2 linked regions of the Homo sapiens genome follow. The protein of the gene in region 2 purifies or fractionates together with the protein of the main gene of each other region. This does not show direct contact. Each region holds a gene or a part of one and is shown on either strand. Other genes may lie near its edges.

Region 1 (3,500 bases), on a different chromosome or scaffold from region 2:
AGTGCCTTCAGTTCCCATCCCTCTTCTCTGACCCCCAACTCCTGAGCCCCTTGCCTGTCACCCTCCCCCACCCCAGCTGCTGCATGTGCCAACCCCCCACCCAGGAGAAAACGAGGCTCTTGGAAGGGAATAAATGGAGGCTCTGTGCAGGCTTGCAGCTGAAATGGCCCTGTGCGCGGCCACAGATGGGCCTCCTCTCCCCCTCCACATTTCTGCATCAACAAAGCGTGACCTTGTTTGGATGACAGTCGCCCCATGTTTTCCCCATGACAATGCTTGCCTTGCCTTTGCCTCCCAGCGGGCTGTCTCAGGACATCTCTGTTCCCTGAAATTGGGAAAGGGTGGTGGGGTGGAAGACATCTCATTCTTCAAAAGTCTGGTGAGGCCTTTTCAGTTAAGATCCACAAGAAGTCTGAGATGGGAATTGGGAGACCCAGAGGGAGAAGCAGCATGGGGCGCTGAAAGAGCCCTGGCGCTCATCTCAGAAGCCTCAGCTTCTGGACTTGGCTCCAATCATCTCTGCAGTCCCCGCCTTCCCTTGGCCAGGTGCTGGGACACAGAAATGAACCAAACTCTGCCCTCAAGAGGCTTTCTGACCTTTGGGAAGTCCTGTTTTTTTCTGACCAGTCTGCTGGTGCTAAGCAGGAATCAGTTAGACTGAAATTATAGTTCAGCCCCTGCCTCTCTAACCTTGGACAAGTTGGTTGCTTAACCTCTCTAGGCTTGAGTCTGCTTTTCTATCAAAGTGAGCAAATAATATCTACCTCCTTCCTTCTTCCCTGGGACTCCCTGAGGATGAAATGAGATGAGGAACATCTTATAAATGGTGAGGCGATGTGAACAGTTGTTCTTAGTTGATGCCAGGCCTCATGGACTCTCTCAGCCTCCAGCACTGTGATGTACCCACCAGGTCAGCAGCAGGTGGCATGGGCAGGAGCATTCAAACCATCATCTGGCCAGAGGAAACCCCTAGATGCACAGGGTCTCCAGAGTGCCTCACAGTGGCTCCCCAACATTTTTCCAGATGGAAAGACTGAAGCTTAAGATTGAGTCAAGGCCAGGCATGGTGGCCCACACCTATAATCCCAGCACTTTGGGAGGCTGAGGCAGAAGGATTGCTTGAGCCCAGGAGTTCAAGACCAGCCTGGGCAATAGAGTGAGACCTCACTATGTTATAAAATATTTTTAAATTATTATTAGTTTTGAGATAGGGTCTCACTGTGTCGCCCAGGCTGCAGTACAGTGGCATGACCTTGGCTAACTGCAGCCTCAACCTCCCAGGTTCAGGTGATCCTCCCACCTCAGCCTCCCAAGTAGCTGGGACTACAGGCGCACACCACCATGCCCACCTAATTTTTGTAGTTTTTGTAGACACAAGGTGTTGCCATGTTGCCCAGGCTGCTCTTGAACTCCTGGACTTAAGCAATCCTCCCTCGCCTCTCAGCCTCCCAAAGTGCTAGAGTTACAGGTGTGAGCCACTGTGTCTGGCCCCCAAAGTATTTTAATAACAAAGAAAAAAGAAGATTGAGTCACACATCTAAGGTCTCAACATAGGGAGAGGTGGAGCCTGGGCTTCACATCGGGGCCGGCAGCTCCAAAGGCTGTGTTCTGCACCTGTGTGGTAAGCTGCCTCTCTAGAAGGCAGAGGAGTAAAAACAAGAGTCGGCAAATTTGGGTACTTGATTTTTTTTTTTTCTTTTTAAATAATTAGAGACAGAGCCAGGCATGATGACTCACAACTCTAATCCCAGCACTTTGGGAGGATTGCTTGAGCCCAGGAGGTCAAGACCAGCCTGGACGACATAGGGAGACCCTGTCTCTACAAAAAATAAAAATAAAATTAGGCAGGTGTGGTGACACGTGCCTGTGGTCCCAGCTACCTGGGGGCTGATGTGGGAGGTTTGCTTGAACCCAGGAGGTTAAGGTTGTATCAAGCTGAGATCACGCTACTGCACTCCAGCCTGGGTGACAGAGTGAGACCTTGTCTCAAAAAATAAATAAATAGGCCAGGCACGGTGGCTCACGCCTGTAATCCCAACACTTCGGGAGGCTGAGGCAGGTGGATCACGAGGTCAGGAGTTCAAGACCAGCCTGGCCACAATGGTGAAACCCTGTCTCTATTAAAAAAAAATACAAAAATTAGCCAGGTGTGGTAGCACGTGCCTGTAATCTCAGCTACTCTGGAAGCTGAGGCAGAGGATTGCCTAAACCCAGGAGGCGAAGGTTGCAGTGAGCCAAGATCGCACTACTGCACTCCAGCCTGGGCGACAGAGCGAGACTCTGTCTCAATAAATAAATTTTTTTAAAAAGTAAAATAAAATAATAAAAATAGGCCAGGCACAGTGACTCATGCTTCTGATTTCAGCACTTTGGGAGGCCAAGGCAGGGAGATTACTTGAGCTCAAGAGTTCGAGACCAGTCTGAGCAACATGGCGAAATCCCATCTCTACAAAAAGTACAAAATTAGCTGAGTGTGATGCCATGCACCTGTAGTCCCAGCTGCTTGGGGGTCTGATGTGGGAGGATTGCTTAAGCCTAGGAGGTCAAGCCTGCAGTGAGCTGTGATTGTGCCACTGAACTCCATGCTGGGTGACAAAGCAAGACCTTGTCTCAAAAATAAATAGATAATAATTTCCCGGGTGCCTAATGATAATAATAATTACATAGAGACAGGGTCTTGCTATGTCACCAAGGCTCTATTTCACTGAGGCTCATCTCAAACTCCTGGCCTCAAGCAGTCATCTCGCCTTGGCCTCCCACAGTGCTAGGATTCCAGGTGTGAGCCACCACACCTAGCCGGTACTTGATTATTAGTAAAAATTATATCCTACCTTGCCACATTAGAAGTCATATTTAGGAATTGGTCACTGGGTCTGGGCAGAGTGGCTTGTGCCTGTAATCCCAGTGCTTTGGGAGGCTGAAGTGGGAGGATTGCTTTAGGCCAGGAGTTTGAGATCAGCCTGGGTAACATAACAAGACTCCATCTCTACAAAAAATTTAAAGATTAACCTGATATGGGCCAGGCGCGGTGGCTCATGACTGTAATTCCAGCACTTTGAGAGGCCAAGGTGGGCGGATCACCTGAGGTCAAGAGTTTGAGACTAGCCTGGCCAACATGGTGAAACCCTCTGTCTAAAAATACAAAACTTAGCCAGATGTGGTGGCTCATGTCTGTAGTCCCAGCTACTCGGGAGGCTGAGGCACGAGAATCACTTGAACCTGGGAGGCGGAGGTTGCTGTGAGCTGAGATCACACCACTGCACTGCAGCCTGGGCAACAGAGTGAGACTAAACAGAGTAAAATAAAATTAAATATAAACATAAATATTAATATAAAAAGTAGCCTGATATGGTGGCATGCACCTGTAGTCCTAGCTACTTGGGAGGTTGAACAGGAAGGTCTCTTGAACCCAGGAGTTCAAGGTTACAGCGAGCTATGATTGCACTGCTGCATTCCAGCATAGGCGACAGAGTAAGAACCTGTCTCTAAGAAAGAAAGGG
Region 2 (3,935 bases):
CAACTTTTCCAAGAAAGCTAATTCCAAGGCCAATTTGGAGGTAATTTTCATTCGACACTATAATTTATACCATTTGTTCCTACAGCTTTCTCTCTCAGGTCACATTAACTGATATTCATAATAATGACCATCAACCTTCAAAACAAGGTTCATTTTTACTCAGTACATCCAGTTTAAGAACACAGTGGGGCTGGGCATGCGGGATCATGTCTGTAATAACAGTACTTCAGGAGGCGTAAGCAGGAGGATCGCTTGAAGCCAGAAGCTTCAAGGCTGCAGTGAGCTATGAGTGTGTAACTGCCCTCCAGCCTGAGCAACGAAACAAGATCCTGTCTCTAAAAAAACTTTTTTAGTTAAAAAAAAAAAAAAAAGAACACAGCAGGACCTCTCCCCCAACTTATTTTTCCTTTAACAAATACAGGGGAAAATACGTAACTATGTCAAGAGGCAAAAAGAAAAAAAGTTTACACATTTTTAATAAAACAAAATAGGCTATTATCCAGAATTTCCTTTCCTCTAGTGTTTCAAAGAGCTGTAATTTTCCTGAACTGTTATTTAACTCTTGTCAGCAATTTTTCAGGTATGTTCAAACCTAGACTCCTCAAGTACTTTAAGTCTCTTAAAGCAAATGTTGGCGGGGCGTGGTGGCTCACACCTGTAATCCCAGCACTTTGGGAGGCCAAGGCAGGCAGATCACCTAAGGTCAGGAGTTCAAGACCAGCCTGGCGAACATGATGAAACCCCGTCTCTTCTAAAAATACAAGAAATTAGTTGGGCATGGCGGCAGGCACCTGTAATCCCAGCTACTCGGGAGGCTGGGACAGGACAATCGCTTGAACCGGGGAGGTAGAGGTTGCAGTGAGCTAAGATCCAGCCACTGCACTCCAGCCTGGGCAACAGGAGCAAAACTCCATCTCAAAAAAAAAAAAAAAAAAGTGTCAGCCAGGTGCAGTGGCTCATGCCTGTAATCCCAGCACTTTGGGCAGGTGGATCGTCTGAGCTCAGGAGTTCAAGACCAGCCTGGGAAATGTGGTGAAACCCAGACCCTCTGTAAAAAAAAAAAAAAAAAAAAAAAGTGAGTGTCATGATGTTTTTGCTTCTCTGCAAAGTGTCATGATGTTTTTGCTTCTCTGCATTCTCTGTAGGCATTATACCCAAGTGTCTTGCACATAAAAGCTGCTGAACAAATATATGTTGCTTATGATAAAGCAATTATTTTCCTTCTGGTACCAACCAATGTCACCCTGAATTATAAATTAAACGTGTCTATACACCTCCCTATTTCCAGGTAAAGTTCACAGCCTTAGACTGAGTCAGGAGCTACAATCCAGTTCTGACTGATGTATTTGTATGACCCTAGGAAAGGTGCCTACTCTCTATGGCCTTCAGTTTCCTTTACTGTAAAAGAAGGGCATTATTTCCTCTGGTGTTCATAGCTCTAAAATTTTTAGATTGTATCAAACAGAAAGGAAGACATACTCAACGAAAACATAAATCAAAGATATTTAGGATTTTATAAAAATCACAATAAAAGTTGTAATACTGCATTTTGCATTGCATCACATTATTATTATTATTATTATTTGAGGTGGAGTTTCTTCGCTCTTGTTGCCCAGGCTGGAGTGCAATGGCGCACAATCTTCGCTCACCGCAACCTCCGCCTCCTCAGCCTCCCGAGTAGCTGGGATTACAGGCATGCGCCACCACGCTCGGCTAACTTAGTAGAGACGGGGTTTCTCCATGTTGGTCAGGCTGGTCTCCAACTCCCGACCTCAGGTGATCCTCCCGCCTCGGCCTCCCAAAGTGCTGGGATTACAGCCGTGAGCAACCACGCCCAGCCCTGCATCACATTATTACAATCCTATTATCTTTTTGGATCTCTATATAGTTTTATTAACTTTACCGTATTTACTTCCATGTGGCCCTCTGGGAAAGAGTAAATGAATGATATATCTTATTTTATCCTCATTTTGTAAAGGTTCTTGGGCTGGTAAAATGCAAGATCACTGAATAAGTCAGAGAAAAAAACACAAAAACAATGTCCAGTGTCCAGCTAAATAAACATCACTCCTAAGAAAGCAAACATCTTTTCCACGTTCAGGATGATGCTCATCCCCAGCAGATGGTCAAAAAAAAAAAAACAAAACAAAATACACATACACAAGCTTCATTACACCTAGCTATTAACCATACATGCTTGCTATCAGTTGTTGAGGAAGAAGGCTCCGTGTCTTTCTCCCCCATCCACCCTCTCCCTGCTACTTTACCTGTTTGTACCTGGCATACAGGTACAAGAGCTGCTCCCTGCTGGCCACCTGAATCAGGCCTTGCAGGTGCGCGGCAGCCTTCTCAAACAGCTCGGCCAGGCAACTGGTCTCCTCGATCTCAGGGCTATGGGGGAACTCCACCTCCCCGGAGTCGTCCCCTGAGCTCAGCTCTCCACCGCTGTCGCCGGTGATGGCCCCCGCGGGCAGGAATGATGAAGCCATGTCTCCTTGCTCGCTCCGTCCCTCTGTGTCCGGTCTGTCCTCCTTGGATTGGGTGTAAGGCCGGCTTGGAGGCCTGGCCCACCAGTCTGGGTCGCGAGCCTGAGCTCCAGTCGGACCCAAGCTCAGTCGCGGCGCGCTCCCTCACGTGACCCTGCTCCCTGCCCACTTCTACTCCCTGGGCGTGCAGAGCAGGCTCCTCGACCCTCTGCCGCTCTGCCCAGTCGACCCGGTCTCCTCCGGCTTCCCTCCGGCCAACAGCGCGCTCAGGCTCGCCTCAGGCCCCTCCAACGGAACAGGAGTCGAGGGGCAGTGAGGCCGGGATGCGTGCGAGCGCGGGGCGCGGCTGGCGCTGGGCCGTGGGGGCGGGGCGGCGTGCGTGCCAGCGGCGTGCGATTCTGTGAGGCCTGCTCTGCGCCGGCGGGGAAGCGCGGGCGACGCTACGCTGGACGTCCTTCCCTGCCGGAGGAGAGAAAGTGCCGTCAGCTGTAGGGGCGTCTTTTAATCGTTTCGCTGAAATTAGCAGTCCCGAGCTCCGGAGCCCGCCACCGGGATGGGCCCCCGGGGGTGGGGGAAGGAGGCCGTTTGTGTGGTAGTGTAGCGGTGAGAGCGGAGTCGCGGGAAACGCGAGGCTGAGGACTAAGGTTCCGCCTGCCCCAGATTGTGCGCCCCAAGCGCCTCCAAACAGCCCTGCGCGCGGATCTGTTGCGTGCGCGTTGGGCTCTGTGTTGAATAATGAAAAACTGCGAGATGGGGCTGTCCCGTCTTACTGTGTGACTGATGAGTGGAATCACTGCTCTGCGTGTTTCGCTCTCCACACCTTCGGAGCCCGCACCTCTCCGGGCCCTGAATAATAGGGTTTGGGGAGTTCGGGGCGCGCCTTAGCCCAGTTCTCATCCCGAGCTCTGTCTTTGACACTGTGCTTTGTAGACACTGTACAGTGAAACCAGAAGTACGGCACAGTTCGGCCCTAGAGGAATGCACAAAACTATTTTTTTAACTGTAACATTATGAGTGGTTATGTCCTAAATGTTAAACACAACGACGCACTATATATTCATTTAGTATTCAAAACAATGTAATAAGCACTATAAGAAGGGTACAAAGAAAGTGTTGTAAACAGTGGTTATTGACTGGGGTTAGGCTTGCGACGGGTGGACGGACGGCTGGACAGGATGAGGAAGCAATGAGAGAACACAGGAAGGTGAGAAAGCTTGCATCAGGATTCAACAGACATTCCTTAAGTCTCCAGAAAGTTCCACTGTTAGTCCCTGCTGTCAAGGTGCTCGCAATCCAGTCAAAGGGATGTTTAATGACCAAATTCTTGCAATTAAAAAGTGATTAAGAATAATGTATTGAGGACTTGATCATTACAACATAAGGTAGGTACTCTTATTTTACTACACATAGGAAATCAGCACAGAGTGGTTAAGTAACTTGTCAAAGGCT

What was found.
Region 1: the proteins of ACBD6 (region 2) and URM1 purify together in Homo sapiens (affinity purification with mass spectrometry; one large-scale study listed by BioGRID and IntAct). This does not show direct contact.

Annotation. Positions count from the first base shown.
Region 1 is NC_000009.12:128,374,374-128,377,873, forward strand, and holds part of URM1 (ubiquitin-related modifier 1), read left to right. Parts: intron 1-3,500. UniProt on the Homo sapiens protein: Acts as a sulfur carrier required for 2-thiolation of mcm(5)S(2)U at tRNA wobble positions of cytosolic tRNA(Lys), tRNA(Glu) and tRNA(Gln). Serves as sulfur donor in tRNA 2-thiolation reaction by being thiocarboxylated (-COSH) at its C-terminus by MOCS3.
Region 2 is NC_000001.11:180,499,778-180,503,712, forward strand, and holds the start of ACBD6 (acyl-CoA-binding domain-containing protein 6), read right to left. Parts: upstream 2,801-3,935; 5' UTR 2,490-2,800; coding exon 2,268-2,489; intron 1-2,267. UniProt on the Homo sapiens protein: Binds long-chain acyl-coenzyme A molecules with a strong preference for unsaturated C18:1-CoA, lower affinity for unsaturated C20:4-CoA, and very weak affinity for saturated C16:0-CoA. Does not bind fatty acids. Plays a role in protein N-myristoylation.